Linked DNA regions of Homo sapiens. The protein of the gene in region 1 interacts with the protein of each later gene in a biochemical or structural test. Each region holds a gene or a part of one and is shown in the gene's direction. Other genes may lie near its edges. The genes, in order: CDKN2A, TRIP12, CCND2 and NPM1.

Region 1 (4,640 bases):
TGCTCTCATTTGACAAAAATGTCAAATATTTGAGATGATGGATAGGTTACTTAGCTTGACTTAATAATTCCCCATTGTGTTCAAAGATCATAACTTCATATTGTACCACATAAATATATACAACTGTACTATCCCAATATATAATTTTAAAACTAATATAATGAAAAAGAAATTGAAGTTCAACATTCCCAGAAGCTAAGTGTAACTTAAAAGTTTTGTGAGAATTTGTTTTAACAAACAAACAAGTTTTCTCTTTTTAACAATTACCACATTCTGCGCTTGGATATACAGCAGTGAACAAAAAAAAAAAAAAAAATCTCCAGGCCTAACATAATTTCAGGAAGAAATTTCAGTAGTTGTATCTCAGGGGAAATACAGGAAGTTAGCCTGGAGTAAAAGTCAGTCTGTCCCTGCCCCTTTGCTATTTTGCCCGTGCCTCACAGTGCTCTCTGCCTGTGACGACAGCTCCGCAGAAGTTCGGAGGATATAATGGAATTCATTGTGTACTGAAGAATGGATAGAGAACTCAAGAAGGAAATTGGAAACTGGAAGCAAATGTAGGGGTAATTAGACACCTGGGGCTTGTGTGGGGGTCTGCTTGGCGGTGAGGGGGCTCTACACAAGCTTCCTTTCCGTCATGCCGGCCCCCACCCTGGCTCTGACCATTCTGTTCTCTCTGGCAGGTCATGATGATGGGCAGCGCCCGAGTGGCGGAGCTGCTGCTGCTCCACGGCGCGGAGCCCAACTGCGCCGACCCCGCCACTCTCACCCGACCCGTGCACGACGCTGCCCGGGAGGGCTTCCTGGACACGCTGGTGGTGCTGCACCGGGCCGGGGCGCGGCTGGACGTGCGCGATGCCTGGGGCCGTCTGCCCGTGGACCTGGCTGAGGAGCTGGGCCATCGCGATGTCGCACGGTACCTGCGCGCGGCTGCGGGGGGCACCAGAGGCAGTAACCATGCCCGCATAGATGCCGCGGAAGGTCCCTCAGGTGAGGACTGATGATCTGAGAATTTGTACCCTGAGAGCTTCCAAAGCTCAGAGCATTCATTTTCCAGCACAGAAAGTTCAGCCCGGGAGACCAGTCTCCGGTCTTGCCTCAGCTCACGCGCCAATCGGTGGGACGGCCTGAGTCTCCCTATCGCCCTGCCCCGCCAGGGCGGCAAATGGGAAATAATCCCGAAATGGACTTGCGCACGTGAAAGCCCATTTTGTACATTATACTTCCCAAAGCATACCACCACCCAAACACCTACCCTCTGCTAGTTCAAGGCCTAGACTGCGGAGCAATGAAGACTCAAGAGGCTAGAGGTCTAGTGCCCCCTCTTCCTCCAAACTAGGGCCAGTTGCATCCACTTACCAGGTCTGTTTCCTCATTTGCATACCAAGCTGGCTGGACCAACCTCAGGATTTCCAAACCCAATTGTGCGTGGCATCATCTGGAGATCTCTCGATCTCGGCTCTTCTGCACAACTCAACTAATCTGACCCTCCTCAGCTAATCTGACCCTCCGCTTTATGCGGTAGAGTTTTCCAGAGCTGCCCCAGGGGGTTCTGGGGACATCAGGACCAAGACTTCGCTGACCCTGGCAGTCTGTGCACCGGAGTTGGCTCCTTTCCCTCTTAAACTTGTGCAAGAGATCGCTGAGCGATGAAGGTAGAATTATGGTCCTCCTTGCCCTTGCCTTTCCTTTTTGTGATCTCAAAGCATCCTCCCTCCGCCCCCATTCCATGGCCCCAGTTCCCTACTCCCACAGCTGTCTGCTGAAACTGCCAACATTACTCAATTGTTTCTGGGGGGAGGAACATTTTTTTTTGAAACAAAATAGATATATGAAACAGTACACGGGAATTAACACGAATATTTAAGGTAAAACATGACCTTGAAGATTATGAAATCCATCTTATTTTGGCCCAGAACGGGGGCATTGGGCTCCTTGGGCCATAGGGGAGCTGGGGAGGACAGGGTGAAGAGTTAGCTCTAAGCCCTCTGCTTGGAGATGCTGTAAATACAGAACGCAAAATCACCTTCGAAGTTAAAGACGCGAAGTTCTTCTTTACTCGGCCCCTCCTCCCCTCCCCCCCGCCAATTCCCTCCAGTTACAGCTAGCATCCAGGTCCCGGGAGGTGAAGAAGGAGACTTCGGCTCCAGTTACAGCTAGCATCCGGGTCCCGATTTAGAAGGAGCTGCCAATTACAGCGCGGTTCCAGGGCTGAGCAAAAAGCCTGAGGAGCCAAGTGGGAGAGGGAGTAAAACTACTGAATTGGGCCACAAGCAAATGAATAAACTGAACGACTCTTAACCAAACCTAATATATTTAATCCAAACACACAAGTCTTTCATTTCTTCCCTCCTCCCTTCCTTCTCTTACTCCCCAACACCCCCTCTTCAAGCACAATTAATTATATGGTTAGATTCTACTGCGTGATCAGCCCTGTTCTAGGTGGTGGGCACGCCAAGGTGAATGAGACCAAACAAGAGTCTTGCCCTCATGGGGTTTACATTTGGAGACAGAGTCGATCTGTTGCCCAACCTGGAGTGCAGTGGCGCGATCACAGCTCACTGCAGCCTCAAACTCCCTGGCTCAAGGGGTTCTCCCACCTGAGCCTCCCGACTAGCTGGGACCACAGGTGCACGCCACGACGCCTGGGTTTGTTTGTTTGTTTAATAGAGACGAAGGTCTCACCATGTTATCTGGGCTCAAGCGATCATCCCCCCTCCTCCTCCTAAAGTACTGGGATTACAGTCCCAAGCTATCTTGCCCGACCTGGGAAACAGACGTTAAGGAAGATAACAATCTATTTTCAGAGAGCGAGTTTATAAAACCAATGCAATGGGTAAATATGAAGTGTGAATAGGAGGAGAAGCTAAAGAGTGGTCGGAGAATCTAATGCAAGCTACGGGAGAAAGAAACTCAAGTGCAAATGCTGCCTCAGGAATAAACGTAAAAAGAGACTTTCAAGTGCAAATGCTCCCTCAGGAATAAAATAATCTTGAGACTCTCAAGTGTAAATGCTGCCTCGGGAGAACCGAACGGCGAGCTGGAGCCCATACGCAACGAGATTAGAGAGGAAGGCAGAAGCCAGAGCACATGAATAAATGAGCATCCATTTTGTTTCAGAAATGATCGGAAACCATTTGTGGGTTTGTAGAAGCAGGCATGCGTAGGGAAGCTACGGGATTCCGCCGAGGAGCGCCAGAGCCTGAGGCGCCCTTTGGTTATCGCAAGCTGGCTGGCTCACTCCGCACCAGGTGCAAAAGATGCCTGGGGATGCGGGAAGGGAAAGGCCACATCTTCACGCCTTCGCGCCTGGCATTGTGAGCAACCACTGAGACTCATTATATAACACTCGTTTTCTTCTTGCAACCCTGCGGGCCGCGCGGTCGCGCTTTCTCTGCCCTCCGCCGGGTGGACCTGGAGCGCTTGAGCGGTCGGCGCGCCTGGAGCAGCCAGGCGGGCAGTGGACTAGCTGCTGGACCAGGGAGGTGTGGGAGAGCGGTGGCGGCGGGTACATGCACGTGAAGCCATTGCGAGAACTTTATCCATAAGTATTTCAATGCCGGTAGGGACGGCAAGAGAGGAGGGCGGGATGTGCCACACATCTTTGACCTCAGGTTTCTAACGCCTGTTTTCTTTCTGCCCTCTGCAGACATCCCCGATTGAAAGAACCAGAGAGGCTCTGAGAAACCTCGGGAAACTTAGATCATCAGTCACCGAAGGTCCTACAGGGCCACAACTGCCCCCGCCACAACCCACCCCGCTTTCGTAGTTTTCATTTAGAAAATAGAGCTTTTAAAAATGTCCTGCCTTTTAACGTAGATATATGCCTTCCCCCACTACCGTAAATGTCCATTTATATCATTTTTTATATATTCTTATAAAAATGTAAAAAAGAAAAACACCGCTTCTGCCTTTTCACTGTGTTGGAGTTTTCTGGAGTGAGCACTCACGCCCTAAGCGCACATTCATGTGGGCATTTCTTGCGAGCCTCGCAGCCTCCGGAAGCTGTCGACTTCATGACAAGCATTTTGTGAACTAGGGAAGCTCAGGGGGGTTACTGGCTTCTCTTGAGTCACACTGCTAGCAAATGGCAGAACCAAAGCTCAAATAAAAATAAAATAATTTTCATTCATTCACTCATTTATTGTCAACATTTATTGAGCACCTATTACAACAATTTCATCGCATGGAAGACAGCATCGTTTCTGACACTGTTGTTTCATGTATCTCTTAGAAAAACGCTGCTATTAGACATCTAACACTATTTATCTTGAGGTGATAAAATATCAAAAGCCGTGTCTCAAGATCGATGAAATGCGGTTAAAATGATGAATAGAAACTCTAGGGGGACCTCATATCGATAGACTCGAGACTGGCACATCTGGAGATCCGTATTTATCCGGCTTCCCCTTCCAGATCACGCGAGGTTTGGGATATTTTGCTCACCAGGCCTCAGCCAGGTAACTGAATCCAGCCAACCCTGGCCCATAGTCTCGGAATCCGACTCGGCTCCCAGTCCCCGCCTCGGCGTTCTGAGACCCCCAGGCTGGGGTTCCAGAGGGCTGTGAGGTTGCGAATGACTGCTGCCAAACCGGAAGGAACTCTGCGGTTCTCTGCCACAGTGGGATTGTTGCAGGCAC
Region 2 (7,034 bases), on another chromosome or scaffold:
GCTCCTTTGTGTTGCATATTTGCTTTATGTACTTATATACTACTATTTAAAGTGGAACACATAGAAAATTGATCAGTCATCTTATCTGGCTTTATGTTTCATAGTTCAGTATAGTTAAACAGCTAGTTATTTTCTGAATAATCATTTGCTGTGTCTGCACACCTCTAGAACATGACTGGCACAGAATTGGCATTAAATAATCACTAAACAAGAACATACCTTGTTATGACAGTATTTTTTTTTTTTTTGAGATGGAGTCTCACTATCTCCCAGGCTGGAGTGCAGTGGCGCTATCTCGGCTCACTGCAAGCTCCGCCTCCCGGGTTCACGCCATTCTCCTGCCTCAGCCTCCTCAGTAGCTGAGACTACAGGCGCCCGCCACCACGCCCGGCTAATTTTTGTATTTTTAGTAGAGATGGGGTTTCACCATGTTAGCCAGGATGGTCTTGATCTCCTGACCTCGTGATCTGCCCGCCTCGGCCTCCCAAAGTGCTGGGATTACAGGCGTGAGCCACCGCGCCCGGCCTGACAGTATTTTATTACTCCCTGTTTCTGCCATTTTAGTTTGCTTTTTCAGTGAGTGAAGATATAAAACAGTGGTAATTGCTAAACTTATCTCATATTTTCCCATGGACAGTCGATTAAGTGATGTTCTAAAGAGAAAACGACTGCCAAAACGAGGGCCAAGAAGGCCAAAGTACTCACCTCCAAGAGATGATGACAAAGTAGACAATCAAGGTAACCCCTTTGATGAAACTATGGGGAGGTAAAGGGGAGGGTGGTAGCAGGTGCAGAAATGTACTTTATTAAAACTGCCAGTAGCTCTTGAAGTATGCCTAAGTTTCCTGAGGACTAAGTGTTCTTAGTTCTTTCAGTTAATTAATCTGTTAAGACTGTGAATCTTAAAAATCAGTTGTTTTTCATCACTTAAACTAAAATGACTTAACTGTAGTTCTTTTTTCTTTTCATAGCTAAAAGCCCCACCACTACTCAGTCACCTAAATCTTCTTTCCTGGCAAGCTTGAATCCAAAAACATGGGGAAGGTTAAGTACACAGTCCAACAGCAACAACATTGAGCCAGCACGGACTGCGGGAGGTAGTGGCCTTGCCAGGGCTGCCTCAAAGGATACCATCTCCAATAATAGGTGAAGTGGGGGGAGTTTTATGTTTCTTCTATTCCCATATCAGAAAAACTTAAACATTATTTCAGCCAGTACGTTTATTGTGTGGAGACGATACATAGACACAGCACTTTAATTTGTTCTTAAAAGCATAGTTCAAGAATTAGGTAGTTTCTCAGTTTATGAACCCTGCATCTGGCTTTGTCCTAAGTTCCAGTCATGTGCTTTGAAACTCCTTCCAGCATACCTAGCTGAAAGTCTTATACGTTCAAAACCACATTGTATTCCTTGGGGAACCTCTTCCTCAGTTTTGTTCCAGACAAGGAAAAGCTGACATTTTCTGTCCACATTCTTCACATCTTTTATGATAAAATTTCTCTACCCATTACAATGGAACTTCAGGATTTTAGGGGAGAGCCTTTTTTTTTTTTTTTAAGTCCTTGGGACTTGTTTTATTTTTGGGTTCTGCATGTAGCATACCAACATGATTACTTCCCTCTGCAGATAAGAAATTTTAAAAGACCAAATGTCATTGAGAAAATAAACATGCTCTCTTTGGTTTTGTTGGTTGTTTTTCTTAATTTCAGTGTATAAAAATAATTAAGTGAATGGATTTCTGAAGCCATCAGCATTTGTAATTTAAGCAGCCGGGTCTTATTTGCCATAGCTTATTACATCCTTAATAGGCGCATGTTTCTGGTCTGTAAATCTTTACTTCAGCTCTCCAGGAAACACAAGTTAAGGATAATGCAGATATGTATGTACTTTAGGAAGTAAAGGGAACACTTAGGAAAGTGTTATATTGCAGGGTTCCAAAAAATTATTACACTTTGTTTACAATTCATGTAATGACCTGCAGTGTATTTTAAGTTTTTAAACAGTTCTCCAGGTGGTACATCGTAGCCCATTTTCAAAGTGAAAGTTAATTTGGTTATGGAATCTGGAGTTTTTAAACTGTAAGCATAGACCAGGATGAATTTTAAATGTAGCAGCTATTTGCCTTGATCAGAAGTTATATCCTTTCTACATACACTGGGACTTTAATATCTCCTTTTTGTTTCTTGTAGAGAAAAAATTAAAGGTTGGATTAAGGAGCAGGCACATAAATTTGTAGAACGTTATTTCAGTTCTGAGAATATGGATGGAAGCAACCCTGCATTGAATGTCCTTCAGAGACTTTGTGCTGCAACCGAACAACTCAACCTCCAGGTGCTGTGTCCAGTGCATTTTGCTGGTCTTTTTCAGTCTCTTCCCAGCATCTCCTGCTACTCTTTTCCTTCATGACTCTCTAGCTTCCTATGGATTTAGCTATCCTACATCGACTTTTACCTTATATACACCCTTGGTGCTGGCATTTCTTTTACTTATCCCTTGACTATCAGGATTCATCAGTCTGTATTAAATGTACTAGAAACCTCATCTTTGACTTTCTTTCCTTCACATCTCATCATTCTTGACAAATGAAGAAACTTCAGAAATGTCCTCACAAGCACATCTGTTTTCTAAGTCATCCTCAACTATAGGTATAGATGATAGGCCTTCCTTAGCCCCTCTCTTCACATGGGGTCTCAGAGTGGCAGGAGAGGCTAGAGGTTTACTAATAAGTGTTTTACGTTTCATCTGGTTCTCAGTTTTTGTTCTTATTTTTATTTTTATTTATTTATTTATTTTGATGTTTTTGATGTACCTTGAGCAGTTTTGGTAGTATGTTTTCCAAGAAATTGTTCATTTTGCTGAGACCTTAAATGTATTAATTTAAAGCCACACCTTGTATTCTTGATTCATCTTTCCATTCTGGTGTTATAGCCCCTTATTCTTCAGTTTTCTGTTCTCATCTTTTAAAATACTCTTTTTTAAAGAAAACTACATTGGTTGAATATGAAGATTTTCTTCTTATGTTATTATGGATTCCTGGTTTTCCTCATGAAATATTTAGTGTGTGTGTGTGTGTGTTTAAAATCATAATTTCCAAGGATTTACTAAGACTGTACCACTCCCCTGCCCTCTTTTTTAAGGGCGTTGAGAATATATTCATTTCCTTTTGAGGATATGTGAGTTGTGTATTTTTTAAGTGCTGCTTAAATCAATATAGAAATACTTTTCCTAACTCTTTCAGGTGGATGGTGGAGCTGAGTGCCTTGTAGAAATCCGTAGCATAGTCTCAGAGTCAGATGTTTCATCATTTGAAATCCAACATAGTGGATTTGTGAAGCAGCTGTTGCTTTATTTGACATCTAAAAGTGAAAAGGATGCTGTGAGCAGAGAGATCAGATTAAAGCGATTTCTTCATGTATTTTTTTCTTCTCCAGTAAGTTATCTAATAATGCCTGTGTATCTTTTAAGAATCAGTGCTCACTAATGCATATATTTTCATCTCAGTAATAATTTCCAGCAGGTCTTGGTCAAGACATTGAGGGAAAACTTCTAGGTTTTCACATAGTTGGAATCCTTCAACTTCTGTATATCAAAGTAAATAGTAAAACAATGAAATGGGGATTTAACAAAGCCCATGTCACTATTTCTATGATTGAAGTATCTTGAGTCTTTTTTGCTTGCAGGATGAGCCATTAATAGTAGTCTCTCACCTGTGAATGTATTTTACTTGCAATATTTGTTTTTAAATGTATTGAAGTTTGTATTAGTTCCTTTTAGTGAAACAGACATCTATAATAAGATAGAGGAGTTATATTTTCTTGTTTTGTACATAAAATACAGTTGTAACAGTTCCAATCAAGGGCGCTTAATGACCATTTATGTCACCGTTTATAATGTGGATTACAAAGCCACAGAGTGGCTCCCCTTCCTTCACTCTTAAGTGGGCCAGAGCAAGAGGGTAATCCTTGGATGCTGTTGACAGCATTCTCCTTGTTTTACAGTGGCTTAAAGAGAAGGCATCACTTGGAAACGTTCCCTATTATCTGTGTAATAGGGCTTAGCATAGCTCTCCTATGTATTAACACTATTTCACCATGCGCTTGCAGTCCTCAGAGGCATTTGAGCATTGCTTGTATTTTAACTTGTGAGTCAACCTAAAGCAAAGTTAGTATTTATTGGAGATTCATTAGAAGCGTGACAGTATTATGTATAGTTTTACAGCATACTTAAGATTATGTGCAATCTCTTTTCTGAAACCCCTGGAGTTTGGTCGGTTTCAAAGGTCCTACAGTGTGTAGTACATTAAAATTCCCAGCAGTTTCTGAATAGCACTGTATATTATATGCATTAAATATTTTTATAGCATAACATGAATATTCTTACTAAAATCAGATAAATAAAGACTGTAAATAGCCTTATGTCTGTTTGGATCAGATTTTGCCACCAAGTGACTTGTGTTTTCAGAGCCTTTGGATGTAGAGATTGTGAATACAGGATTGTGGGCTGTACAAAACAGTTGTCTTTATTGAAATAATTGACGTGGTAACATCGTTCAAACCAAATCTGCCATAAAAGATAAAGATGAATAGACAAATTATTCTCTTTTATAAAGCTGCTTATTAAATCTTCTCTTTGAGGAGACTTTTGTTTTGAAAAGGCTTTGTTTAACCTGTTTGTTTATTTATAACTTTAGCTTCCTGGAGAAGAGCCCATTGGAAGAGTGGAACCAGTGGGTAATGCACCTTTGTTGGCATTAGTTCACAAGATGAACAACTGCCTCAGCCAGATGGAACAATTTCCAGTCAAAGTACATGATTTCCCTAGTGGAAATGGGACAGGAGGCAGGTAAGGACCATTGCCTGGCTATACCCTTGCCACTGGAATTTGGTACTTAATTTCACTGAAGTAAGATGGCAAGAGGTCTGGTAAAGTCTTGATTGGCCCAGAAAACATTCAGCTGTAATGATGAAAGAAATTAAGCACTCTAAAGAATGAATCAAATGCTTTCTTATCTTTAAAATTATACCATATGCCTTAAACAGGATGCTTTATAAATATATAATCCAGTGATTGTATTTGTAACTTGTAATAGGCTTAGTTTTCCTTAAATTGATACACTTCAGCATACAAAACTTCCTTAAGAACTTTATGTTTAACTTCAGTAGGGATAAAAAATTTTTTGTGGCTGTGAGTAATGTTTACATTTTGAGCGATATGATTTATATGTAATATTAGTGGCTATAACTTTGTATTTTGATGGGGTCAAATGTTTGAAGTTTTACTAGTTTAATAAATATATATATTTTTAATGTAGTTTTAAGGACTCTTGAGGTGCTACAGGAAAGAATTGTTCTATGTTGTGGAATGTTACAAGTTTCATGGAATATTTTGACCGGAGGCCTAGAAAATAGGAAATTTGTTTGGTTTTTATTTATTTATTTATTTATTTATTTATTTTGGGACAGAGTCTTACTTTGTTGCCCAAGCCAAATTACACTAGTGTGAACATGGCTCACTGCAGCCTTGACCTCCTGGCTGAAGAGATCTTTCTGCCTCAGCCTGCCACGTAGCTGGGGCCACAGGCATGTGCCACCATGTTCCATTAATTTTTTTATTTTTTGTAGAGACGGGGTCTCACTTTGTTGCCCAGGCTGGTCTCAAACTCTTGGGCCCAAGTGATCCTCCTGCCTTGGCCTCCCAAAGTGCTGGGATTTCTGAGCCACCACACTCAGCCTAGTTTGGTTTTTAAATCCACATTTTGACGTTTTAAAAACATTTAAAAAACTTTGTTTGAATTAAAAACCATATGCATTTTTGAGTGATAAAGCAATCACATCATGGACTAGGGTTTCTTTTCTGCTTTGAAATTTAATGTAGTGTGTGGTATTCAGTTTTGATCGTTATGATTTCCTGGAGGAGTTCATGAAATAAGGGGGCATTTTGACCTGTGCTTGAGAAAATCATGAAGCTTTTTGTGTCCAAATTTATATAAAATATGTTTGCATATGTATATATTCATAAAATGGAATATTCTCCACATCCCTATTTGTGTGCTTTATGTGCAGGAGGGTCCAATCTTTTGGCTTCCCTGGGCTATATTGGAAGATGAATTGTCTTGGGCCACATAAAATACACCAACACTAATGTTAGTTGATGAGCTTAAAAAAAAAAAACACTCATTGTATTTTAAGAAAGTTTACGAATTTATGTTGGCCTATATACAAAGCCATCTGGGCTGCATGTGGCCTGTGGGCCGCAGGTTGGACAAGCTTGCTTTGTGGAATCATACAGATAATCACAGTTTAAGTTTGTATCTGACTCCTGCCAGAGCTTTTCTGAAATGAGCAATTAAACATCATGACCAGGTTTCAACTGCAGTAGCTATTAAACCGCTTCGTTCAAAACTATTATAGCAAGGTAAATTTTAAAGGTTAGTTTTTAATGTAATATTGTAGCTGAAATCTTTGAAATAAAGAGTTTTTTTTTTCTTTTTAAAAAATATAATTCAATAGGAATGGGCAAAATATTGCAGAAGTGAGTGTGCTTAAATAGTTCAGGAATTTTTGTTCCAGAAAAATAATTAAATATTCATGGGTGAAGTATTTCTGCTCCCATGGATTTATGATGGGACAGAGATCAAATATTGACTTAAGGTTTTCATATGCATGCATACACATCCGTCTTTTATTTCTTACGTATAAAAATTTTTTCTAAATAACTTGAATTATTGGCTTTACCATTCACAGAACTGGTAAGTAAATGCTTAGTACTAGTGTGTCTTATGAAAATGCAGTTTGTATTAACTTGCCTTTATTTGAATTAATGTATATTAAATGTGAAAATAATAGACTAACTTTTTTTTCACAAATTATCTTGAGCTTTTCTCTCAACAGAGGATCACAGGCTTTAAAATTTTTCAACACACATCAATTAAAATGCCAGTTACAAAGGCATCCAGACTGTGCAAATGTGAAGCAGTGGAAGGGTGGACCTGTCAAGATTGACCCTCTGGCTTTGGTACAAGCCATCGAGAGATA
Region 3 (7,034 bases), on another chromosome or scaffold:
TCAGCTCAACAGGTCGGACAGGGTAAGGGTAAGGGATGTAACCAGGAGATGCCACAGGAACGTCTGAGAGGTGTTAGCAAGTCCCAGAGGCCAGCGCCCGACTCCATTTCAGCCTCGTTCAGGGTGGCACGGAGACTCCTGCTGCTGCGTCACGTCTGTCATGTTCAGCACTCTTCCCAGACACACAGTCTTGACTAAAGATTGTCAGGATCTTGACACACGCTTCATTAGTCTTGACTAAATGCGAATCTATACCTCATTTCAAAGAAATCTGAATTCTTTAGGTTCCAGGACCAGTTTATTGTTATACATAATCACGATCATTTATTGAGCTCCACTTAGCACTGCACATATATCAGTATCATCTCAGTTGCCCTTTACTCTGATTATTTTGTGGGGAAACTGAGATCAGAAAAGTTAAATAACTTAGGTGCCACCTGCAAGTATAGTGGGTGGGCAGCAGATACCACCCTTCCTCATTTCATTGTTCCAGGTGATATTTCGTCTCTGCCTTTGGCCTTTAGTCTGTGGTTGTTCCTAATCTTAGTTTTCATTGAAAGCTGTAGTTTGAAATGTGGGATAGATGAGAGATAGGAAAGGAAAATTTAGGGGTATGGAAATTTTGTTCCTTAGTGGTTAGTTCCAGCTTTATTTTGTTTATTTATATGTTTGTTTTTAAAGATCGGGAGCTTGCTGTGTTGTCCAGGCTGGTATCGAACTCCTGGTTTCAGCTTCCCGCCTCAGCCTCCCAGAGTGCTGGGATTACAGGCATGAGCCAATATGCCTGGCCAGCTGTGTTTTAGATCTTTGGGAAATAAAGAGAATGCTTTTGGGCTTGGCAAAATAGAAACCTCTGGGTGGGGAGAATTGCACAGTAAAAGAAACAAAAGGGAAGTTTATATTAAACTATGAAAAGACACAGGGAGGTTCAATTTAACATATTTGCCTTATGTATGTGCTTCTTAAGAGAGTGCACAAAGGCACCTTTGCAGAGGAGAGAGGCTAGAAAATGCCCGTTAGAAGCAAGTCTACGGTTTGCACCCTCTTACTAGCACCAGCAACGGTCCCTGTCTAGTGATACCCATGACTTGTCATTGCATTGCATGTCATCTGCCTAAGAGAAGCTCCTGCCTGGGGCAGACACACTGTCAATTACCCCTACAATATAGACTGATACTAAAGCAAGGCTGCATATTCTTGCTTATTCCCAAATTGGATGGCTCAAGGTTCCAGAATGTTGTAGACATTCTGCATTATATCTTTATGAGAGTTAAGGAAATGGTAAAGAAGCAGAAAAAGTTGGGGATTTTTTTTTTTAAGTATTTACAGTGAGGCGCGGTGGCTCATGCCTGTAATCCCAGCACTTTGGGAGGCCGATGCGGGCGGATCACAAGGTCAGGAGTTCGAGGCCAGCCTGGCCAATATGGTGAAACCCTGTCTGTACTAAAAATACAAAAATTAGCCAGGCGCGGTGGCGGGTGCCTGTAGTCCCAGCTACTTGGGAGGCTGAGGCAGGAGAATCGCTTGAACCCGGAAGGTGGAGGTTGCAGTGAGCCGAGATTGTGCCAGTGCACTCCAGCCTGGGGGACAGAGTGAGAAAAAGTATTTACAGTTTATGTGAGGGTCAGTACGTTGGTTCATTGGCTTCCTTCTTATCTAGTTCTCGGGCTGAGTTTGCTAATGTCATAGCACTTCTAGTAGCCTTCCCCTTTTCTCTGCCACTTCCCAGCTTCCCCAGGCAGAAAGCATCTGGTCGGCCCCTTGATTACCAGGCATCCATAAGTGACCATCATTTAGGCCAGTGCTTCTCAGAATGCCAATCACCTGGGCTCCACTAAAAGGCAGGTTCTGAATAGCTCGGCCTGGGTTGACTGAGATTCTGCGGTTCCAACAAGCTCGCAGGTGATGCTGATGCTGCCAGCCCATGGACCCCACCTGGAGTAGTGAGGTTCCTTGGCACTTTAAGAACATCCCTCCTTTACTTCACATTTATTTCTACTGGAAACTAGCACAGACTTATGCAAGCTAAATTACGCATGTTTTCTCCGTAGGATGCTCTATGTCCTGTTCCTCTTACTAACAACTCTGGTCTGGACCATTGTTCTAGGATTGTCTCAAAGCTTGCCAGGAGCAGATTGAGGCGGTGCTCCTCAATAGCCTGCAGCAGTACCGTCAGGACCAACGTGACGGATCCAAGTCGGAGGATGAACTGGACCAAGCCAGCACCCCTACAGACGTGCGGGATATCGACCTGTGAGGATGCCAGTTGGGCCGAAAGAGAGAGACGCGTCCATAATCTGGTCTCTTCTTCTTTCTGGTTGTTTTTGTTCTTTGTGTTTTAGGGTGAAACTTAAAAAAAAAATTCTGCCCCCACCTAGATCATATTTAAAGATCTTTTAGAAGTGAGAGAAAAAGGTCCTACGAAAACGGAATAATAAAAAGCATTTGGTGCCTATTTGAAGTACAGCATAAGGGAATCCCTTGTATATGCGAACAGTTATTGTTTGATTATGTAAAAGTAATAGTAAAATGCTTACAGGAAAACCTGCAGAGTAGTTAGAGAATATGTATGCCTGCAATATGGGAACAAATTAGAGGAGACTTTTTTTTTTCATGTTATGAGCTAGCACATACACCCCCTTGTAGTATAATTTCAAGGAACTGTGTACGCCATTTATGGCATGATTAGATTGCAAAGCAATGAACTCAAGAAGGAATTGAAATAAGGAGGGACATGATGGGGAAGGAGTACAAAACAATCTCTCAACATGATTGAACCATTTGGGATGGAGAAGCACCTTTGCTCTCAGCCACCTGTTACTAAGTCAGGAGTGTAGTTGGATCTCTACATTAATGTCCTCTTGCTGTCTACAGTAGCTGCTACCTAAAAAAAGATGTTTTATTTTGCCAGTTGGACACAGGTGATTGGCTCCTGGGTTTCATGTTCTGTGACATCCTGCTTCTTCTTCCAAATGCAGTTCATTGCAGACACCACCATATTGCTATCTAATGGGGAAATGTAGCTATGGGCCATAACCAAAACTCACATGAAACGGAGGCAGATGGAGACCAAGGGTGGGATCCAGAATGGAGTCTTTTCTGTTATTGTATTTAAAAGGGTAATGTGGCCTTGGCATTTCTTCTTAGAAAAAAACTAATTTTTGGTGCTGATTGGCATGTCTGGTTCACAGTTTAGCATTGTTATAAACCATTCCATTCGAAAAGCACTTTGAAAAATTGTTCCCGAGCGATAGATGGGATGGTTTATGCAAGTCATGCTGAATACTCCTCCCCTCTTCTCTTTTGCCCCCTCCCTTCCTGCCCCCAGTCTGGGTTACTCTTCGCTTCTGGTATCTGGCGTTCTTTGGTACACAGTTCTGGTGTTCCTACCAGGACTCAAGAGACACCCCTTCCTGCTGACATTCCCATCACAACATTCCTCAGACAAGCCTGTAAACTAAAATCTGTTACCATTCTGATGGCACAGAAGGATCTTAATTCCCATCTCTATACTTCTCCTTTGGACATGGAAAGAAAAGTTATTGCTGGTGCAAAGATAGATGGCTGAACATCAGGGTGTGGCATTTTGTTCCCTTTTCCGTTTTTTTTTTTTTATTGTTGTTGTTAATTTTATTGCAAAGTTGTATTCAGCGTACTTGAATTTTTCTTCCTCTCCACTTCTTAGAGGCATTCAGTTAGCAAAGAGGTTGGAGCAACAACTTTTTTTTTTTTTTTTGCACAATTGTAATTGACAGGTAATGAAGCTATTTGTTAAAATATTTGCCTTTTTAAGTAAAAAAGAAAAATCAGAACAGGGCTATTTGAAGAATTATTTTATACACAGATTCTGCCTTGTTTCATAGTATGAGGGTTGAAGACGGAAAACAATCTAAGGGTCTCTCATTTTTTTAATTTTGTTTTGTTCAGTTTGGTTTTTTTTTTTTTTTGCGCTGCTAAGAAGCTAAAGTCATCCATCCTTATTCACGTTGACAGTACCTAGCTGTAATGTTTCACAGAGTGTGCTGCTATTTTATAAACATTTTTATAATATATTATTTTACTGCTTAAATTCCAAGTCCTGAAGTAGATGGTTGAGATATGAGTTCTTCGTACTGGAAAAGCCCTTCCGTAGTTTGTTTTCTTCTGGTAGCATATTCATGGTTGTTTTTTTTTTTCTTTTTTGGTTTTTTGGTTTTTTTTTTTTCCTCTGATCACATTCTTCAAAGACGGAGTATTCTTTACCTCAGGTTTACTGGACAAAATCAATAACTACAAAAGGCAATGATTCACGCTTTTGTTTTCATAATACCTCACAACCGTACAGTTTCTGCTTGGGAGCCCATTCGCATGAGGAATACAGAAGCAGTGTGAGCAGGGCTGACTCCCTCTCAGGTGGAAGGCAGGGCGGTCTCACTCCCAGGGACCTTTTTGGTCATGGAGGCCATCGGGCTCCCAGTTAGACCCTGGTATCCTCATCATGATGGAAAAAATACATTGAACCAAGGGATCCTCCCTCCCCTTCAAGGCAGACGTTCAGTACAAACATTTATGCGGTAGGCTCAGATGTCGTAATTTGCACTTAGGTACCAGGTGTCAGGAAACAGACTAAAAAGAATTCCACCAGGCTGTTTGGAGATCCTCATCTTGGAGCTTTTTCAAAAGCGGGGCTTCATCTGCAAAGGGCCCTTTCATCTTGAAGTTTTTCCCCTCCGTCTTTCCCCTCCCCTGGCATGGACACCTTGTGTTTAGGATCATCTCTGCAGGTTTCCTAGGTCTGAATCTGCGAGTAGATGAACCTGCAGCAAGCAGCGTTTATGGTGCTTCCTTCTCCCTCCTCTGTCTCAAACTGCGCAGGCAAGCACTATGCAAGCCCAGGCCCTCTGCTGAGCGGTACTAAACGGTCGGGTTTTCAATCACACTGAATTGGCAGGATAAGAAAAATAGGTCAGATAAGTATGGGATGATAGTTGAAGGGAGGTGAAGAGGCTGCTTCTCTACAGAGGTGAAATTCCAGATGAGTCAGTCTCTTGGGAAGTGTGTTTAGAAGGGTTCAGGACTTTGTGAGTTAGCATGACCCTAAAATTCTAGGGGATTTCTGGTGGGACAATGGGTGGTGAATTCTGAAGTTTTGGAGAGGGAAGTGGAGCAGCCAGCAAGTAAGCTAGCCAGAGTTTTCTCAAGAGCCAGCTTTGCTCAGCACACTCTCCTGGGCCCCAAGGAGTCCCACGGAATGGGGAAAGCGGGAACCCTGGAGTTCTTGGGAATCTTGGAGCCTAAAGAGAAACCGAGGTGCAAATTCATTTCATGGTGACTGACCCTTGAGCTTAAACAGAAGCAGCAAATGAAAGAACCGGACAAATAAGGAAGGGCACAAGCCTACCCGACTCTATTTACAGTCTGTAACTTTCCACTCTTCCTGTAGTCCCGAGGCCCCTGGGTCCTTCTAGCTTTTCTCTTTCCCATCCTTGGGGCCTTGTGTGATGATGGGTGTGGGGCTGCCGATGGGAAAGTCGGGGGTTGTTAGGCTTTTCTGCCTGCTCCTGCTTAAACACAAGAAGGAATCCTGGATTTTGCCCTCTCCTTAGCTCTTAGTCTCTTTGGTAGGAGTTTTGTTCCAGAGGAGCTCTCCCCCTTGGATTTGAACTTGCTCTTTTTGTTGTTGTTGTTCTTTCTCTTCTTTTTCTTACCTCCCACTAAAGGGGTTCCAAATTATCCTGGTCTTTTTCTACCTTGTTGTGTTTCTATCTCGTCTTTACTTCCATCTGTTTGTTTTTTTCTCCATCAGTGGGGGCCGAGTTGTTCCCCCAGCCTGCCAAATTTTGATCCTTCCCCTCTTTTGGCCAAATCCTAGGGGGAAGAAATCCTAGTATGCCAAAAATATATGCTAAGCATAATTAAACTCCATGCGGGTCCATAACAGCCAAGAAGCCTGCAGGAGAAAGCCAAGGGCAGTTCCCTCCGCAGAACACCCCATGCGTGCTGAGAGGCGAGCTCCTTGAAGAAGGGGCTGTTCTTCCAGGAGGCCTTATTTTGAACTGCCTCAGGACCCCACTGGAGAGCACAGCATGCCTTACTACTGGGTCATCCTTGGTCTATGTGCTCTGTACTGGAGGCTCTGTTCTGCCTCTTATCAGCCAGGTCAGGGGCACACATGGCTTAAGTGACAAAGCCAGAGGAGAAGACAACCCTGACAGCATCACGCTGCATCCCATTGCTAGCAGGATTGGCAACTCTTCAGACGGAGCTGCGCTTCCCTGCAGTCTAGCACCTCTAGGGCCTCTCCAGACTGTGCCCTGGGAGCTCTGGGACTGAAAGGTTAAGAACATAAGGCAGGATCAGATGACTCTCTCCAAGAGGGCAGGGGAATTTTCTCTCCATGGGCCACAGGGGACAGGGCTGGGAGAAGAAATAGACTTGCACCTTATGTCATGTAAATAATTGATTTTCTAGTTCAAGAAGATAATATTGGTAGTGTGGGAATTGGAGGTAGGAAGGGGAGGAAGTCTGAGTAAGCCAGTTGGCTTCTAAGCCAAAAGGATTCCTCTTTGTTTATCTCTGAGACAGTCCAACCTTGAGAATAGCTTTAAAAGGGAAATTAATGCTGAGATGATAAAGTCCCCTTAAGCCAACAAACCCTCTGTAGCTATAGAATGAGTGCAGGTTTCTATTGGTGTGGACTCAGAGCAATTTACAAGAGCTGTTCATGCAGCCATCCATTTGTGCAAAATAGGGTAAGAAGATTCAAGAGGATATTTATTACTTCCTCATACCACATGGCTTTTGATGATTCTGGATTCTAAACAACCCAGAATGGTCATTTCAGGCACAACGATACTACATTCGTGTGTGTCTGCTTTTAAACTTGGCTGGGCTATCAGACCCTATTCTCGGCTCAGGTTTTGAGAAGCCATCAGCAAATGTGTACGTGCATGCTGTAGCTGCAGCCTGCATCCCTTCGCCTGCAGCCTACTTTGGGGAAATAAAGTGCCTTACTGACTGTAGCCATTACAGTATCCAATGTCTTTTGACAGGTG
Region 4 (6,586 bases), on another chromosome or scaffold:
ATCACGCCACTGCACTCCAGCCTGGGCACCATTGAGCACTGAGTGAACGAGACTCTGTCTGCCCTGATTTCCTTTTTTGAACTGACTTAGTACTGTGCATAAAAGCAAACTCCCAAGTTACTCTTTTTTTTTTTATTTAAAGAGATGGGTGGCCTACTCTTGCCCAGGTTGAAGTACAGTGGTATGATCATAGCTCACTACAGCCTCCAGCTGCTGGGCTTAAGCAATCCTCCTGCCTTAGCCTCCTGAGTAGCTGGGATTACAGGCATGCACCACCATGCCTAGCTAATCATCTTATTCCTTCCTTAAAGGAAAGATTTTAAGAACAAAATTATATGGCGTGAATTTATTGATGATAATTCCAGTTGTATAATTAGCTTTATAAGGGAGTTTTGTGAGAATATTTGAGGAAATCCAGATAGAATGGGTTTTAATTAGGAATTGTATTTATTCTTATGACCTTTTGGAAATTCATTTCTTTTTCAGGGACAAGAATCCTTCAAGAAACAGGAAAAAACTCCTAAAACACCAAAAGGACCTAGTTCTGTAGAAGACATTAAAGCAAAAATGCAAGCAAGTATAGAAAAAGTGAGTAAAGTTATCTTAAAAAAACTTTGTCTCCCCCCTCAAATTGCACGTGTCTGGTTTGCATAGACTTGAATGTTTCTTGTTTTTTTGTTTGTTTTGGTTTAATATACTTGCCTGGTTCGTGGTATGAATTTTTTCAAAAATTTCTTATAAAACATTTATAATCGTGTCTGTGGTGATTTTTGCATATGCAAAATTAAATATGCCTTATTTTCCATTATGCAAGGAACGTAGTGCACTGGTTGCAAGATAACATTCTGACCTTCCATGTTAAAATAGATCAGTGAAAACCCTTTGCCTATTCTGGTTGTAAGATATGCTAGAGAACCAACAGAGGGCGTATGAGACTTCATTAAAATTACAAACAGCTGGAAAAGTAGATGCTGGCTGTTGCTTGGTATTATAGTTAATATTCATGATTGACCCTAGTCAGAAGTGATTTTCAGCAGATTGAGACATTTCTCTTTGCCCTTTACACCAAGTTGTCACCAGTTAATACATGTAGTAATAGCTAGATTTCGTGAATGACTAATAGGCTTAAATCTAGTTTCCTTTTGTCTTAAATAATGGAAATGTGGGAAGAGGGTTAGGTCTCTCATCTGCTTGACTGGGGGATTTGAGTAGGATATGGAATAAATGGTTTAAATGCCTTGGAAGCACATTTGAGAGAAGCTTTAATTCTATGAATAATACTTTTAGACTCCAACTATTGAGAGCAAATGTGGGGTGGTGAAAAATTGCCAACTCATTTCCCCATGTTTTTCTTGTAATCTATAGATTTTTCGTGGCTTCAGTAGATTCCTTGTACAGTGATAAGTCCACTGGAAAAAGAATTTTAGAACTGGAACATATTTCTTTTAGTCACACTGTAAACCCTTTAGCCTTCCTGGTTATCACTGATTTTTGTCCCTTGGATACAATGCTAAAATGACATCTTTTAGATGCCCCTCCCCTCCATTTTAATATGGTCCTATCTCCTTGGTTTAATTGCAGGCGCATTGAACAGTCCTGGGCACTACATGTAAATTAAGCCCAAAGATGGGGAGAAAGGAAAAGGAGAGACAAATATAGTCCATACTGAGTGTCATCAACAATCCAGACTGAAGTCTTCTATTTTAATCTCAATCCCCTTTTCTGATTTGCCACCCATGCCTCTTCAGGCTGGAAACAATCTCTTGGTTCCCTAAAGCACTTTCTTCTGACTGCTGTGATTCAGTGAACCTTGCCCTTTGCTTTCTATTACTTGTGCATTTGCCTCACCTGACAATGTTTTAAATCGCCTTTGTATCTCCTTAGCTGCTCAATAAATATTTGAATGCATCAATTAAGAATGTATGTGACAATAATTTTGAAATGGAAATTGTGAGGTTTATTTTACTAGGTTATTGGAGGCAGTTAAGTTTCTTAATGCTATACCTGATTCTGCCAAAGTCCCTTGGACATTTGAAAACCTTTTCAATCTTTTAAAAATGCATAAAAGATACTTAGAGGGAAAGGTATTAATTAAATTTAGTAAAAACAAATATATTCAATGCTTTAAATTCCAAAGTAGTGATAAATACAAACATTTCAAGATATTTGCAATAGTAATGTTTTGAAATTTTGGTTACAAAGTCACAGGTCTTGCCAATACTGTTGTAGTTTCTTGCCTATATCCGTAATTTGAAGGAAATGGTGAGAGTGATTAGAGAAGTGTAATTACTGTAATTTTTTCCCCTATTGTAGTTTCTTGCCTGTATCCATAATTTGAAGGAAATGGTAAGAGTGATTAGTGAAATGTAATTACTGTAATTTTTTCCCCATTCAACTTTATATATCTTTAACTGATGACCAGATCATTGTTGTTCTGAACCAGTTTGTGGTCAGCAAGTGTTTTGTGGGGTTTTGTTTGTTTGTTTTTAAAGAACAGTTTGGGTCACTTGACATGGTTCTCCAAAGGGATGTTATGGGTTGTATTTGGTTCTGGGTGATAACCGACTTGTTAGATAATTTAGATAAGCAACCGAGTTGCCATGTTTGTTTGTCGAATCTCAAGTGTAGCTTATATTTTATGTTCCTAGAGAGGTTGTCAGGGAAGATTTGACCCTTTGGCAAATCTGTTTGAATAGAGATACTAGCCATGCTGCCCAATAGGGCTTTCTGGCCCTGAAAAAGATACGGAGTATTCTTGGAAAGTTGAAGGGAAAAAGAATAAACTGATCCATGTAGTAGCATGCAGATTATTGAGGAATTTTCTAAAGGTATCTCTCTCGGTGTATTTCTCTACTTACCTGTAATAATGCTTTTGTCTTAATAGGGTGGTTCTCTTCCCAAAGTGGAAGCCAAATTCATCAATTATGTGAAGAATTGCTTCCGGATGACTGACCAAGAGGTAACTGGATTTTCTGGGGACATGATTAAATCCAAGTTTTTTTGTGATTTATTATGATTCTGCCTTTACCCTTTTTAAGTGTTGGCTCTTTTTAAAAAGTTCCTAACCACAGATAATATTTCATTTAATGAAATACCTGAAAACTCATGTATTTAATGAAATGCATGAAGAATACAGTTGGCAGTCTGAGATGATAACTTTAGTATATTTTTCCCAGATTTCCTATAGTTGGTAAATTATTTCTTGGTTATTGAATTCAGTTTTACTTTTTTGGTACTATGTTGGTTAAGGAAATTGCTGTGGTTTTCCTTGCTGTTCCATTTGACTGCTTGGGGCAGTCTGGTCTTGGCTTTTTTGGGAGTTGGTAGAGATCTTTTTTTTTTTTTTCCTAGATCTTATGGGAAATACATTATGCCAAAATCATCCTAACATGAAATCTGGAAGCAAGACACTAAATTGTGGCTACTACCAGATACATAAGCTTGAGTTAGCTGTTAGATTTTACAGTTAGTACATGTGAAAGTCTTAGTCAACATAAAGATTATGCATTTATTTTTGCTCTTATTTACAGTTGACTCATAAGTGTAAGGACAATGTAAAAGTGGTTAAATAGGGATGTTAGGTATCGTGTGGAGAACGGATGCTGCATTTAATGGTCTTTAGGTTTCCTGTGGTCAGCTTTTTTCAAAAAATTAGGAAAATTTGGCAATTAGCTGGTTTTTTTTCTGCCATAGTATTTTGCACTTCAATTATTTAATTGCACTTCAATTTTTAGTTTTCGGGTTCGTAAAACCCTGATAATGGTTAATTTTGAGTTTAGCTTTGTGAAAGTTGTAGTGATGGGCTATAAGATGATCAGGTTCAGTCTTTGGTTGCTGTTCTGTTTTTTCTCTACATTTGAATCCTAAAGTTTAAAGTGTGAGTTTTGGGAGTTTATTTGGAATACTAAACATTGATTAATCATAAATTATTTTGAAACTCCGCGTTATGCAACTGTTTATTTAATATTGAAAATAGTGGAAAGTCAGACATAAATAACCAGCATGTACTAACAGCTAAGCAGCATAAGAGATGCATTCTTCAACTACTGCCAAGGAAAGTGATGATAAATTTAATGATTAAGTTGCAGTAGTCTTCTGTACTTTATAACAAAGGCTTGTAGCTACAAAGTCTTGTAGCTATTAAATTACTGAACCAGCACTTCTACAAGAAGTATTTTCTTTTTATAAAAAGTATTTTTGGCCAGGTTGGTCTTGAACTCCTGGCCTCAAGCAGTCCTCCCATCTTTTCCTCCCAAAGTGCTAGGATTACAGGCACGAGCCACCTTGCCCAGCCTACCAGAAGTATTTTTTTGCTCTAGAATTGAAAGTGTTCTCAAGTGTCAGAATGAAATTTCTGGAATAAATAGTAAATGTTTAATAACTTGAACTTGAATTGCTGTTACAGAGATTATCAAAACTAAATGCTTCCTGTTTTTGACATAGAGATGCATGATGCAAGCAACGACAATGTATATTTGTTTGAACCTGATGATAAGATCTCTGGCTGGGCGTGGTAGTTCATGCCTATAATCCCAGCACTTTGGGAGGCAACATGGCAAAACTCTGTCTCTACTAAAAATACTAAATTTAGCTGGGCATGGTGGCATGTACCTGTAATCCCACCTACTCAAGAGGCGGAGGCAGGAGGATCGCTTGAACCTGGGAGGCAGAGGTTGCAGTGAGCGCCACTGCACTCCAGTCTGGGTGGCAGAGTGAGAGTCTATCTCAGAAAGAAAGATTTCTATGATATTTAATATTGGCATTCGGTATTCAGTTACCTTGTACCTGAGAACCCATTGGCTGTGAAACAGTGACAGCTGAGAGAATCCTGAGTCATCTCATTTCTAGTTCTTGGTGAACTTCTGGACTTTTCTTCAGAACCACCTTGCCATGTTGGCCAGGCTGGTCTTGAACTCCTGACCTCTCAGGTGATCCAACACCTTGGCCTCTTAAAGTGCTGGGATTACAGGCATGAGCCACCATGCCTGGCCAGCTGTTTTTTTTGTTGGTTTGTTTTTTGTTTTGGTACCCATCTGTAGTGTGATCTTGGCTCACTGCAACCTCTGCCTCTTGGGCTCAGGCAGTCCTCCCACCTCAGCCTCCTGAGTAGCTGGGCCTCCTGTAGTTGCACACCACCAAGCCTGGCTAATTTTTGCATTTTTAGTAGACAGGGTTTCACCATGTTGCCCAGGCTGGTCTCAAATTCCTGAGCTGAAGTGATCTGCCCGCCTCAGTCTCCCAAAGTGTAGGGATTACAGGCGTGAGCCACCATGCCTAGCCTCAGCATATAGTTTTTTCTAAATGTACACATGCCCAGGCACACATGCACAGGCAATTCAGAATAAGTTTCTGGTGTTTATGTAACTTTATTTGCCAAATCTGGCCAACTCTAAAGCTGATCTCGGGAGATGAAGTTGGAAGTAACATTGGCCATATGGGTCTCTGTTCTTTCTGTTGATTTCCTTAAGTAAATAATGCTAAACTATTAAATAATTATTAGTATATTGTTCACATTTTTATGACTGATTAAAGTGTTTGGAATTAAATTACATCTGAGTATAAATTTTCTTGGAGTCATATCTTTATCTAGAGTTAACTCTCTGGTGGTAGAATGAAAAATAGATGTTGAACTATGCAAAGAGACATTTAATTTATTGATGTCTATGAAGTGTTGTGGTTCCTTAACCACATTTCTTTTTTTTTTTTTCCAGGCTATTCAAGATCTCTGGCAGTGGAGGAAGTCTCTTTAAGAAAATAGTTTAAACAATTTGTTAAAAAATTTTCCGTCTTATTTCATTTCTGTAACAGTTGATATCTGGCTGTCCTTTTTATAATGCAGAGTGAGAACTTTCCCTACCGTGTTTGATAAATGTTGTCCAGGTTCTATTGCCAAGAATGTGTTGTCCAAAATGCCTGTTTAGTTTTTAAAGATGGAACTCCACCCTTTGCTTGGTTTTAAGTATGTATGGAATGTTATGATAGGACATAGTAGTAGCGGTGGTCAGACATGGAAATGGTGGGGAGACAAAAATATACATGTGAAATAAAACTCAGTATTTTAATAAAGTAGCACGGTTTCTATTGACTTATTTAACTGCTTTATACTTTGTCAAAGAAATAATTAATGTAGTTAGGAATGGCAAATAGTCTTGTAAAATTCTATGAGAATGTCCCTGCCCTCCCCTTCAATATTCTCTCTGGAGCTAACCACTTTTTCATCATAAGGATTTAGTGCTGTGTTCCCACCTCCTGATGATAGTTAACAATTATTATAACTATGCAACATGTTTCCAAATGTTCCATTAGACCTCCTATCTGCCTATTCTAGCCTCACTTGCAAAGAAAATGTGGCATGTTAAAACAGCTTAAAAGCAGCCTTTCAACCTGTATGGTTTTTTCCCCTAGGCTGGAGTGCAGTGGCACAATCTCAGCTTATTGCAGCTTCTGCTTCTTGGGTTCAAGCAGGTCTCCTGCCTCAGCCTCCCAAGTAGCTGGGATTACAGGTGTGAGCCACCAGCCCGGCTAATTTTTGTATTTTTAGTAGAGATGGGGTTTCACCTTGTTGGCCAGGCTGGTCTCGAACTCC

The links.
Region 2: the proteins of CDKN2A (region 1) and TRIP12 form a complex in vitro, tested with the Homo sapiens proteins (2 studies listed by BioGRID).
Region 3: the proteins of CDKN2A (region 1) and CCND2 form a complex in vitro, tested with the Homo sapiens proteins (2 studies listed by BioGRID).
Region 4: the proteins of CDKN2A (region 1) and NPM1 form a complex in vitro, tested with the Homo sapiens proteins (3 studies listed by BioGRID).

The regions. Positions count from the first base shown.
Region 1 is NC_000009.12:21,967,252-21,971,891, reverse strand, and holds the end of CDKN2A (cyclin-dependent kinase inhibitor 2A), read left to right. Parts: intron 1-227; exon of another isoform or gene 228-563; intron 564-683; coding exon 684-990; intron 991-1,388; coding exon of another isoform or gene 1,389-1,486; exon of another isoform or gene 1,487-2,087; intron 2,088-2,098; coding exon of another isoform or gene 2,099-2,160; exon of another isoform or gene 2,161-2,311; intron 2,312-3,120; coding exon of another isoform or gene 3,121-3,167; exon of another isoform or gene 3,168-3,317; intron 3,318-3,649; coding exon 3,650-3,663; 3' UTR 3,664-4,140; downstream 4,141-4,640. UniProt on the Homo sapiens protein: Acts as a negative regulator of the proliferation of normal cells by interacting strongly with CDK4 and CDK6. This inhibits their ability to interact with cyclins D and to phosphorylate the retinoblastoma protein.
Region 2 is NC_000002.12:229,792,987-229,800,020, reverse strand, and holds part of TRIP12 (E3 ubiquitin-protein ligase TRIP12), read left to right. Parts: intron 1-637; coding exon 638-738; intron 739-971; coding exon 972-1,146; intron 1,147-2,189; coding exon 2,190-2,331; intron 2,332-3,238; coding exon 3,239-3,430; intron 3,431-4,690; coding exon 4,691-4,842; intron 4,843-6,875; coding exon 6,876-7,034. UniProt on the Homo sapiens protein: E3 ubiquitin-protein ligase involved in ubiquitin fusion degradation (UFD) pathway and regulation of DNA repair.
Region 3 is NC_000012.12:4,297,753-4,304,786, forward strand, and holds part of CCND2 (G1/S-specific cyclin-D2), read left to right. Parts: intron 1-2,107; coding exon 2,108-2,257; 3' UTR 2,258-7,034. UniProt on the Homo sapiens protein: Regulatory component of the cyclin D2-CDK4 (DC) complex that phosphorylates and inhibits members of the retinoblastoma (RB) protein family including RB1 and regulates the cell-cycle during G(1)/S transition.
Region 4 is NC_000005.10:171,404,816-171,411,401, forward strand, and holds the end of NPM1 (nucleophosmin), read left to right. Parts: intron 1-486; coding exon 487-588; intron 589-1,581; coding exon of another isoform or gene 1,582-1,590; exon of another isoform or gene 1,591-2,310; intron 2,311-2,884; coding exon 2,885-2,959; intron 2,960-5,711; coding exon 5,712-5,750; 3' UTR 5,751-6,085; downstream 6,086-6,586. UniProt on the Homo sapiens protein: Involved in diverse cellular processes such as ribosome biogenesis, centrosome duplication, protein chaperoning, histone assembly, cell proliferation, and regulation of tumor suppressors p53/TP53 and ARF.